Linked DNA regions of Homo sapiens. The protein of the gene in region 2 purifies or fractionates together with the protein of the main gene of each other region. This does not show direct contact. Each region holds a gene or a part of one and is shown on either strand. Other genes may lie near its edges. The genes, in order: CLINT1, PICALM and CLTCL1.

What was found.
Region 1: the proteins of PICALM (region 2) and CLINT1 purify together in Homo sapiens (affinity purification with mass spectrometry; 3 studies listed by BioGRID and IntAct, with this or other methods). This does not show direct contact.
Region 3: the proteins of PICALM (region 2) and CLTCL1 purify together in Homo sapiens (affinity purification with mass spectrometry; 3 studies listed by BioGRID and IntAct, with this or other methods). This does not show direct contact.

The regions. Positions count from the first base shown.
Region 1 is NC_000005.10:157,857,498-157,861,248, forward strand, and holds the start of CLINT1 (clathrin interactor 1), read right to left. Parts: upstream 1,649-3,751; 5' UTR 1,474-1,648; coding exon 1,433-1,473; intron 1-1,432. UniProt on the Homo sapiens protein: Binds to membranes enriched in phosphatidylinositol 4,5-bisphosphate (PtdIns(4,5)P2). May have a role in transport via clathrin-coated vesicles from the trans-Golgi network to endosomes. Stimulates clathrin assembly.
Region 2 is NC_000011.10:85,957,456-85,961,206, forward strand, and holds part of PICALM (phosphatidylinositol-binding clathrin assembly protein), read right to left. Parts: intron 3,323-3,751; coding exon of another isoform or gene 3,230-3,322; exon of another isoform or gene 3,220-3,229; intron 1,606-3,219; coding exon 1,591-1,605; 3' UTR 1-1,590. UniProt on the Homo sapiens protein: Cytoplasmic adapter protein that plays a critical role in clathrin-mediated endocytosis which is important in processes such as internalization of cell receptors, synaptic transmission or removal of apoptotic cells.
Region 3 is NC_000022.11:19,285,004-19,288,754, forward strand, and holds part of CLTCL1 (clathrin heavy chain 2), read right to left. Parts: intron 1-3,751. UniProt on the Homo sapiens protein: Clathrin is the major protein of the polyhedral coat of coated pits and vesicles. Two different adapter protein complexes link the clathrin lattice either to the plasma membrane or to the trans-Golgi network.

The DNA.
Region 1 (3,751 bases), on a different chromosome or scaffold from region 2:
TCTTAAAGAGGTTTATTTCACTCTAAATGCAAAACATTTGCTAGTTTCAAAAGTACACTAATATAAACATATTCTGTTAAGGGCTTTATATGCAATACAATCCCTTAACCCTTAAGCCTCACAACAACATTCTAAGGTAGGTATCGTTGCATTTTCATTTTGTACCAGAGAAAACTAGGGCACTGTGAGGATAAGTAACTTCCCCAAGGTTATAAAGCTTGAACCCAGCTTTGCAGGTTCTGAAACCTGTGCTCCTTAGGCACTCTATTGCCTTCTTGGTAGCACAGAAAATATAAAAATATGGTCAAGCTCTAAGTTCTATCTGATGTATCAGACAAGGCACTGGAAATTACTTTGTTTCCTGGTGTCAAGAAAACAGTTTGCTATCTATACTTCCTGATTTTAGGTTAGGTGGGTGGCACAAATCAACTGTTTTTCTCACCACACTTATTGCATAATCATTAAAGCCCCAAAGGAAGAGGACTGCTTAAATTCTTAAACTTTATTTCCTGCTGGCCTAGAAGACCTTACTTAACCACTGTTATACCTGATATACTCATTTTAAAAGTTAAGGTTTTCCTTGTGCAAGTAAGAGACTAAAGTTATTTCAGTCTTAAAGGAAATCAACTACGTACTGGTCGTTTTACCTGCTTTTAAAAGCAGATCAACAGGATATAAACCTGGGTTGTTTTTTTCCTTAAGAGGACATTTCTTAATGACCTCTTAATTTAATCGAATGGAACAAGTAGCACACCAAAAATGATGTGTAGTGGAAAAAGAAACAGAAGAAAAAATCGCAAGAAGTCATATAGTGATCTACTTTCACTAGTGTTAGAAAAGCAAAGGATGAGTGTCTTCTTGAGTAACTTCAGGCTGACCACAATAGCCACTTGTTACACTACTACCACCCACTCCAACACTTCAGGTTCATTAGGAATTAAGAGGAGGCAAGGAAGATAAAAGACACACCCCAACCAGGTCTAAGGTCTCTCCGTACTACACCTTGAGGGACACAGGGAACCAGTGCATTGTGCCCCCCACCCCCAAACCTTCCCTGCTCCCCAGGAGGCAAAGCCCACGGCCTGGGGCCAAGACAGTCCTCCGGCCAGGGCAGTGACCCAGCGCCAAACAACCCGCCCCTTATGACCAAAGCGTCGGCACCCAGGGGTTGGAATAGGGGAAGGGACGGGAAGGCCTGGAAAGGAGAGAAGGGTGGCCAAGAGGATGTTTTTTTTTAAAACGAGGGAGGGTCCCTCCCCAGCCTCGCCAGCGGGGATGAGGCCCGGGGCCGGGAAGGAGCGGGCCGCCGCCATGATGGGGCTGGCAGAGCCAGGGGGCGTGACGTGGGCAACCCCTAGCCCAAGGCCAGCTCCTTCTCCCCCTCCCCCCTCCCCCACGTGGGCCTCGGCCACAACTGCCCCCCGATACTCACGCTTTGTCCACCAGCTCGCGCACCTTCCACATGTTCAACATCGTGCCCCGCGCGGGACGGTCCGCCGCCTCCCTCTCCTGCTCCCCACGGACCCCGGAACACTTCCGTACCGGGGCAGTTCCAGGCCGGGGTCACCGCCGCCCGCCGCCTCGAACTCCCCCAGTCAGCTCCTTCCTTTGCCACAGCAGCGGCGCCGCCGGTGACACGTCGAGACGCGGCAGCACAGGCGCTGCGTGGAGCGGAAGTGTCCGACTTTCCGCCGCTGCGCGCGGGGCACGCCGGGACTTGTAGTTTTCCCTGAGTGCCGAGCTCGGCCGGTTGAGTTGGGAGAGCTGAGAGGTTGAGTTGGGAGAGCTGAGAGGAGTTGGGATGGTTTCTCTTAAGCTTTCCCAGTCCCCGGCCCCAGACCTACCGAGCCAGAAATTTTGGAGGTGGGGCCCAGCGATCTGTGCTTTTACAAATCCTCTAGGTGATTCTGATCACGCTCAAGTTTCAGAACCACTGGTGCAGGGTCTAGTCACACTCAAACACTTTTCAAATGTAAGGCAGTATTACTATGTTATTAGTAATGATTATACAGAAGTATGATTGGCATACGCATTCCTCATCGACAGACACATCGCTGTATTTATTTCCCAATGCCCAAGTACACTTAGATCTCTAGGCCTTAGTTTCCACCCCTGTAAAATTGAAGAACTTGTATTCTAAATCCTTTTCCGCTCTAATTCTATGATACAATGTTTTATATTTAGACAACTACCTGAAATCCTTGTTAAATGCTTTACTATAAACCTCAGAAACTCAGTTCACACTCCACGGGAAACTAAAAAGCCAACATTATATATACACGCACACATACACATACATATGACAGGTTTGTGTTTTTTAAGGATAAATATGCACATTGCTTCCATTGCTTTGTTGCAATGGTTGTCATCACTTCCTTCTCTACTTACTCATTTTTATCAATGCTCATGTTAAAGCTACAAGCAACCTTAAGTTTCATTTGATCCATCTGCTGAAATTTTACAGTTCTTTTCATTCTACAAATATTTATTGAGCATCTTGTATGTTCCAGAAGTGGGGAATATAGTTAAAGACCCAGCTCTCTTGGAATTCAAACGTAATTGGAAGAAACATATAATAATCAAGGAAACATTTAAGATAATTGCATATAGTGTAATTGCTTAGCGGGTTCTTTCTGCCCACTTTACAGATAAAGTCAATTCACTGCGACCAAGTCATTGCAGTGAAGAGTTTGACATGAGGCTGGCCATGCCACTTGAGAGACAGAGTTATTACTCAAATCAATCTTCCTGAACATTTGGAAGCTAGAGTTTTTCAAAGATAGTTTGGTGAGCAGAGGGTTAGGGCATGGGTGCTGCTGATTGGTTAGGGATGCAATCAGAGGAGTATGGAAAATGGTTCTCCTTTGCTGAATCGGCTTCTTGATGGAGGGCCAGCAGAGGAGTGGCTGGTCTGGGTGGGGTCATCCGTTTGTCAGAAATGCAAAAGCCTGAAAAGACGTCTTAAAAGGCCAATCTTAGGTTCTACAATAGTTCATTACAGGCCAGGCACAGTGGCTCACGCCTGTTATCCCAGCATTTTGGGAGGCTGGGAGGCCAAGGCAGGAGGATCACTTGAGCCCAGGAGTTTGAGACCAGCCTGGGCAGCAAAGTGAGATCCCCCTGCCAGCCCAGTCTTTAAAAAAAAAAAAAAAAAAAAAAAAAAAGCCAGGCGTTGGGGCACACTCTTGTGAGGCCAGCTACTTAGGAGGTTGAAATGGAAGGATCCCTCGAAAGGATCAAATAAAGACTCCAATTCACAAAGAAGTGAAATTGATGGTTGCTAGTCATGAAGCTAGGTAACAATAATCCCAAATAAACAACCTCGGACCCTGGTCCCTCAAGTGAAACCACCTCTTTTCTATTTTCTTTTTCTTTTTCTTTTTTTTTTTTTTTGAGCTGGAGGTCTCACTCTGTTGCCCCAGCTGATCTGAAACTCCTGGGCTCAAGCAATCCTCCCACCTCAGTCTCTCAAGTAGCTGAGACTACAGGAAACCCTCTCCAAGTTGCATTCACTTAATTACCGAAAGCAGCTTTGAAAAAAGTTTCAGTAAGGCTTTCGGATTGAGGCCCCAAGAGAAAGAAGCAAGGTTGAAGGAATTGACAGGCAGAAAATTACAACAAGCAGAAATCCAAAGTTATCTCAGAGCTTTGTAATGGTAGGAGTACTTGGGCTGATATGAAGTGAGTTGGAGAGGTGGGTGGGGAGAGGCAGGTAAAGATGAGCAGAGATGGGTAGAGGAATAGGGCTTTC
Region 2 (3,751 bases):
GTGAACAATTTTAATAAGTAGTTGCATTTATCAATAAGAGTCTACAAGGTAACAAAAAGTGTAAAGAGACATCTTTTTGAAAATTCATATAAAACAAACCTTCCATGTTATTAGATCAACAAATATAATCACCTGGGTATATTTTATTAGGGAAAAATGACAATATTGATAATAAAAAGAGAAAGGAAAAATGAAAATGCATCTCAGACCAGAATACCATAACAAAACTTTTGTGGAAGCTGCATTTTATTTGAAAATCCACCCATTTTGCTAACATACATTTTAATATTGTAAACAAAAATAGAATCTGCAGAGACAATGCAACAAGAATGCTTAAACTCATGTACAGAATTGCTTTCCTACAATGAACTGTCCTTCTTAAGGCCCCTCTCCACCCAAATGTTAAAGATGTATTTACACAAAGCACCGATCAACAGTGCAGTTTAATTCTTCGTTTACTAAACTCTTGGCTAGACATTAACTTTAAAGATACTATTTCCCCTTATTTAAAAGGTATATGATCATAACATGGCACGAGCCAAAGAAAATGTTCAAGGACTTTGCCCCCCTTCCCTCCCCCTTGTAACACCTTCTAGAGTTTTAGTGAAAAGAAGGAAAGTCTTGAAGTGAAAGCAATTCCTCACATTCATTTTGGAAAGGCCCTAATGTCAAATGGAAAATAATGACATGCCAAGCACAAAGCAGTAAAGATCCTTCCCAATGCACTAATGCTGAATTTAAAATGTAGTGCTTTTCCTAGTCAGTGAACTGTTCCCTGGCAAAATCCTAGGCACAGAATTGACTATAAGGATTAATGCATTTATAATGCTTCCCTAAATCCCACAGAGGCCGAGAATTCTTAAGAGATTCAGACCTATGGACTTGCCTTAAAATATTTAGTGCTCTGTATGTCAGCTGAGAAAAGCATTCTGAATCAGATTCATTCTTGTGGATAAAAATCAAACATACTGTGCACATCCATACTCATTTTCATAAGGAGGTCTGATACAATATTAATGTTATGTAAAATTGATAATCATAAATAAATACAAATACTTAAGGAATGTCTACTGCAAACTGAATATAATTTTTTTTAAAAAAAGAAAAGTTAATTTCAGTTATTGTTTCTGTATTTGTGAGGACTGGAGAAAAGAAAGATAATGCATAATTAGGAATTTTAATTTTGATCCCCCAAAAGAGTCCTGTTGAAATACAGTAAAGGACACAGTTCTTCTCTCCAGGCAGCTTTTCCAAATACAAATTTCACACTTTCCAAATAAGGGCTTTTCTTGATAGGTTACTGATTATGGGTATTAACAGGAGTTGAAAGAATTGAAGGGTTAGTCACCAAAAAGACAGATCTTAGTCTTAAATCATAGCAATTCTTGGCTTTATAAACTGTATTGATACGTTCTCCTATAAACTAGTCCCAATTTCCTTCATGGGCCTTCACTGAGTTACTTGTAGCATTCTAATGGAAGAAGAGAGTTTAAGAGATTTAAGAGACAGCAGTTTGGATTTTGCTGGAAGTAAGGATTTTGCTGCTTGAGCACTTGTCTTTTTGGAGTAATTCCATTTTCTTCCATCAAGTTACATAAACTGTATCTGGAAAAAAAAAGTGGGTATGTTAATTCATTGTATTGTAGGATGTCTTCTCATAAATAAAAATGCTTTGTGGTCTTTACCATTTAACTGGCCCAGAAGTGTTCACAACATGCTTATCACAAACCCTGTTTATAAAACAAAGTCAGTATTATCAACTTATGTGCCAGAAAGCTCAATATTTGACACATATAGGGACTTCCAAATAATGTTTTTTGTTGTTGTTTTTGAGACAGAGTCTTGCTCTGCTGTCTAGGCTGGATTGCAGTGGCATGATCAAAGCTCAATGGCTGGGCACCATAGCTCACACCTGTAATCCCAGCACTCTGGGAGGCTGAGGTGGGCAGATCACCTGAGGTGAGTTCGAGAGTTCGAGACTGGCCTGGCCAATATGGTGAAACCCCGTCTCTACTAAAAATACAAAAATTAGCCAGGCGTGGTGGCGGGCGCCTGTAATCCTAGCTACTCGGGAGGCTGAGGCAGGAGAATGGCTTGAACCCAGGAGGTGGAGGTTGCAGTGAGCTGAGATCGTGCCACTGCACTCCAGCCTGGGAGACAAGAGCGAAACTCCATCTCAAAAAAAAAAAAAAAAAAAAAAAGCTCATTGGAACTCCTGGGCTCAAGCAACCCTCCTGCCTCAGCCTCCTGAATAGCTAGGACTGCAGACAGTCGCCACCACACCTGGGTAATTTTTGGGTGGGGGTAGAGACTAGGGTCTCACCGTATTGCCCAGGCTGATCTTGAACTACTAGCCCCAAGTGATCCTCCCGCATCAGCCTCCCAGGGTGCTGGGATTACAGGCATAAGCAACCACATCCAGGCCAAATACTTAACTGCTAAAAATAGAGGAATAGCATGTGGAGGAGGAAAAGAAAGAAGATCAATGACCTATTTTTTCATGACAAGTTCAGAAAAATCTCTCCATAAGCACAAATACCACAAGCAAAATCTCATTTGGGAAGCAAAATTTGAAATATTATTTCCAAATGATATACAATTAGAGACAATAAAGGGAACAGTAATATTATACTAAGTCTTTTTATTAACATAAATAAGAACCTGAAAGAGCCATAAAAATATTTTTCAATAGGGTACTACTGTTCATTCAAAGATATTTCACTCACAATTTCCCTTAAACTGCCCATCCAAAGATTACTGAAGTAGATGTGCTAATAAACTTGCCAAATCAGAAGACTATAAACTCCCAAAGATCTAGAAGGTATATCTAAACTGGGGGCTAGAGCATCAAGAAGAACAAATTACACTGTCTTCCAGCAAACAGAGGCAGTGTGGATCATATGCAGAATCCTTCTAATCGAAAGGGCTTAAGTATTCACTTGCCCTTAATTAAAAAGCAAACTTTATCCGATCTCATCCATTTACTGTGAGCAGTGGATGAGATTACTTTAAATAATTATGTTACAGATATTTTCCAAAAGTTGTTTTTCCTTATGTCCTATCTTTTCATTCTGCACCTAAAGAATAGAGGAAGAGGAGGAGGAGGAGAGGGAGCCTAGAGTCCTTTAAAGAAATGAAAGAGAAGCGTGAATTGTGTTTAATGTTTGGTAATTGTTTTTAAGTATTTAAGTCCCCATCTCCCAAAACAAGTAGCAATACCTAAAGTGATTTATAAGAAATCCTCCAAAGAGAGCTCTGCAAAGGGGTCCTTTCCTGAAGCTCTGTGAGGACTGTGACTGGAGGGGCTGGATGCTGCCGACAGCTGGGGGAAAAGAAGACAGAGAGAGGGAAAGAAAAAAAGATCTCAGAATGACAGAACATGAAAGCAGAAAATGTATGAAAGAAGAAGTGGTTTTGGTTTTGTCATCTTTAATAAATATAAGGGCAGTCTTTGTAGAAAATGGATTGTTAAGACAAAAGTTTCAGTCATATGTCAAGTTAAAAGGTATGCAATGGCATGTGTTTTTCAGAAAACAAACTCGTGCTTCTGAAGTTTCAAAGGAATAATGTCTTTTACCCAAAAGGTCGATATAAGCTGACCCATGGTTAAGAATTTTAATGTGTGTATGGGGGGTGGTGGGGGGATAGGGGAGGGAATACATAATTGCATTTTTGTTTAAAATTGAGAGAACATGGTTTCCTGTGTCCAGGCTATCTGTCCAAAGCTGTGCAACTCTGACCTCAGTCCGGA
Region 3 (3,751 bases), on a different chromosome or scaffold from region 2:
GGTGGCTCACGCCTGTAATCCCAGCACTTTGGGAGGCCGAGGCAGGCGGATCACAAGGTCAGGAGATCGAGACCATCCTTGCTAACACGGTGAAACCCTGTCTCTACTAAAAATATAAAAAATTAGCTGGACGTGGTGGTGGGTGCCTGTAGTCCCAGCTACTCGGGAGGCTGAGGCAGGAGAATGGCGTGAACCCTGGAGGCAGAGGTTGCAGTGAGCCGAGATTGTGCCACTGCACTCCAGCCTGGGCAACAGAACAAGACTCCATCTTAAAAAAAAGAAAAAGAAAAAGAAAAAGAAACTTACCAAAGAGCCTTTCCTAGCCTAAAGAGGGAGCTCTGTAAATGAGGGCCTATGAAGAATGTTGACACTAAGGTCTCTTCCAGAACTTACATTCCAGGAGTAGGTTAGTTCAGGGATAGTTAACTACATTTATATAATGCTTTACAGAACTTCTCTCAAATTACACTATTACAGGTTTTCTTTATTTTAACACCAGTGCACAAGACTCTATATTTATCCCAGTTAAATGTCAACTAGCTGGATTCTGGCCTGTCAAGATATATCCGATTCTAATTTCATCACTGAACTTTGCTATCCCAGCTTTGTGGCATCCTTCTTCAGCCTGCCAAGAGTGATGGTCATCTCTCTGGCATGGAGGCCAGCAGCAGGCCTCAAGAGAAGTGGAAGAAAATGTGGGAGAAGAGCCTGCAAACTCAGTAAAGTCTCAGTGAAGAAGCAAAGGAAGGAAAAATCAGACAGATTGCAGAAAGATTCCCCCTTAGAGAAGGGGGTGACAGGGTGCCAGCAACTACTACCCTAGGGAATACTGATAAACAACATGTCAGATAGATGCAGTGATCTGTCTGTGATCCTATGGGAGGATCTTCAGTGTGTTAAGTTACAAAAGCAAAGGGCAGAAGCATATTTAAAGCAGGATTCTTTTGAACATTTTTGGAAGGATATGGTGGCTTCGTTTATAGTGGTTTCCCCTGGGGAGAGACAGACAGAGGCTGAACTGAAAGATTTTAATTCCCATCAGACTAGCCCCTGCAACAGAAATATCTCAGCAGAGAGGAACCTTGACTCAGATCCTCCTAGGACTTAATTCTTTCAACCCAACCAACTAAAAAAGCACTGGTTTGTGTAGCTTAGGCATTCTGAACATTTAAATGTTCTATGGTGAAGATCTGTTTTTCCAAAGAGTCCCCATTCAAATTCATTTACTCTTTGGTCACCCACAATGCCACAGCGGTAGGTACTCCCACAAGGCTCACCCTCGCAGACACCCTGGCTGAGGCAGGTTACTCTCCTTGCTTTGTAAATAAACAAGTCAGAAGGCAACTAACTGGCCAGTATGTATTTCCAATACCAGAAGCAGTGGTAGGCCAACAGGCAAAATTTAACAGTTTACATGGTATCTTAAAATGACATTTTACATGGGATGCAATAATTTTAGGATGCAATGAGCCAACTGCTGTCTTAGTACATCAAAAACCACTTCACAAAATGAGATAGCTACATAATGGCAACATAAACCAAATATGGACTGGATTACTATGGGTACGTGTCCCTTTTTGGAGCATGACCCCCAGAAGCCTCTCCAGACACACACGGGTGTGTGTGGATGGGAACTGTTTTCAGTTCAAGCTCAATCTACACCTTCACAGTTTTACTTTCCCCCCTCTTTCCTTAATGATTAATATTGACTAACATGTAGAAGGCTGTTTCACCTGGGCTGTGTGTAAGACTCACCTGGGAAGGAATACCAAAGCTCCATCTCCACCACTCAGAGCTTTGGATTTAACATCCAGCAGAAATATGTTTAAGGCTGCAGGCCATTCTCACATGCAGCCTAGGTAGAGAAGCACTGATTAAGATCTTGACCATCTTTCTCCTACAATTCTAATGCTCAAGGTCTCTACACCTGTTTCAAACACCGCCTCAGAGACACTTTGAGGGAACATGTTTACGTTTTCTGTGTATTGAGCTATGACACATTTCACAGCTTACAAACTTGGAGCTGCTTTTTTGATATAGCTGGGGGGAATTACTTAGGGCTCAAGAAAATTTTTATGTCACCAAACTATTCAGCCATTCCTCTTCTGAATCAAGATGTCTTAAGTGCTCAGCCCATCCTCAGATATTACAAACAGCAATACCCTTCCAACTCTCACATTTGAATATTTCTAAAAAGTTCAAATGGTAGCTCCCTGAGCTCACAATCCAGCAGAGAAAATGAACAGCTACAGTACCCTGGGAAGAGTGTCATTATAAGAGGAACCCCAAAGAGGCACAGAGGAAGAACTCCTAACTGACAAATCAGGGAGAGCTTCCAGAGACAGCGTCATTTCCACAGATACCAGAAGGCTCAGTAGGAGTCAGTGAGTAAAGAGGGGTGAGAGGAGAATGTGTTTTGGCAAGGACACAAAGGGAGCGGCAGCAGAGTTGAGCAGGTGTTGGGCTGGGAAGAACAGGAAAGAGCACGTGGGGATCAGTCTTTTCATGCCAGAGGAAACACGAAACCACTCCCTGAAGGACTTTAAGCAGATGCTCATCCTTGGAGATCATGTTGCCTGTGTGCTGGAGAATGGATCACAGGAGGGCAAGACTAGAAGTAGAAGGACAAAGCTAGCATGACCATCAAGGTGGGGAGGGATGGCATAGTTTAGGGAAACGGTAGTCATGATGACAGTGGCAGAACGATGCCAAAAGTAAACAGGAGAAAGGGACAACAGGATGGGGAAAACACATCCCAGGCTCCTGGCTGGACACTGGACAAGATACACATCTGGGGAGAAAGGGAACCCCATTTATGAACACTGTGTTTGAGGAACCTGCTGACCATTTCCTGGCCTTCTTCAGTAGGCAGCTGTCACAATGGCAGCAACAGCTCACAAGGACACAGTGCTTTACAGTAGTCCCTTCTTATCCGTGGTTTTTTTCACACTGTTACCTATAGTCTGAAAATATTAAATGTAAGACCCCAGAAATAAACAATTCATAAGTTTTAAATTGCATACCATTCTGCAGAGTGATGAAATCTTGCACCAGCCCACCCAGGACGTGAATTATCCCTCCTCTGCCCAGCATATCCACGCTGTAGACATTGCCAGCCCATTAGTCACTTAGTAGCGGTCAGTTACCAGGTTGACTGTTGCAGCATCACAGAGTTTGTGTTCAAGTAACCCTTAATTTACTTAATAATGGCCCCAAAGTCCAACAGTAGTGATGCTGGCATATTGTTATTATTGTTCTGTTTTATTATTAGTTATCATTGTTAATCTCTTACTGTGCTTAACATAAATTCAGCTTTATCATACATATGTATGCATAGGGAAAAAAAGTGTATAAAGGGTTCAGAACAATCTGCAGTTTCAGGCATCCTCTGGGGGTCTTAGAACATATTCCCCATGGGTAAATCGGGACTACTGTATTATGTAACAGTTATTGTTTAATGCTTTACATTTATTAACTCAAAAACCTCACAACTACCTTGTGAGATAAGAAGTATACCTTTTATCCTTATTTTATAGATGAAGATATAGAAGCACAAAAAAGCTACAAACATTGCCCTAAATCACACAGCCAGTAAGTGCCTGAGTCCACATTCAGTGCCTTCAGTTTGGCCTCAGTCTGTGCTCTTAACCAGGACCTGCTACTGCCTCACACACACACAGCAGTGAAACTGCGAAAACACTCGGATGGCTTGGGAACATCAAGCTTATGGGAATACATAACATCACCAGCA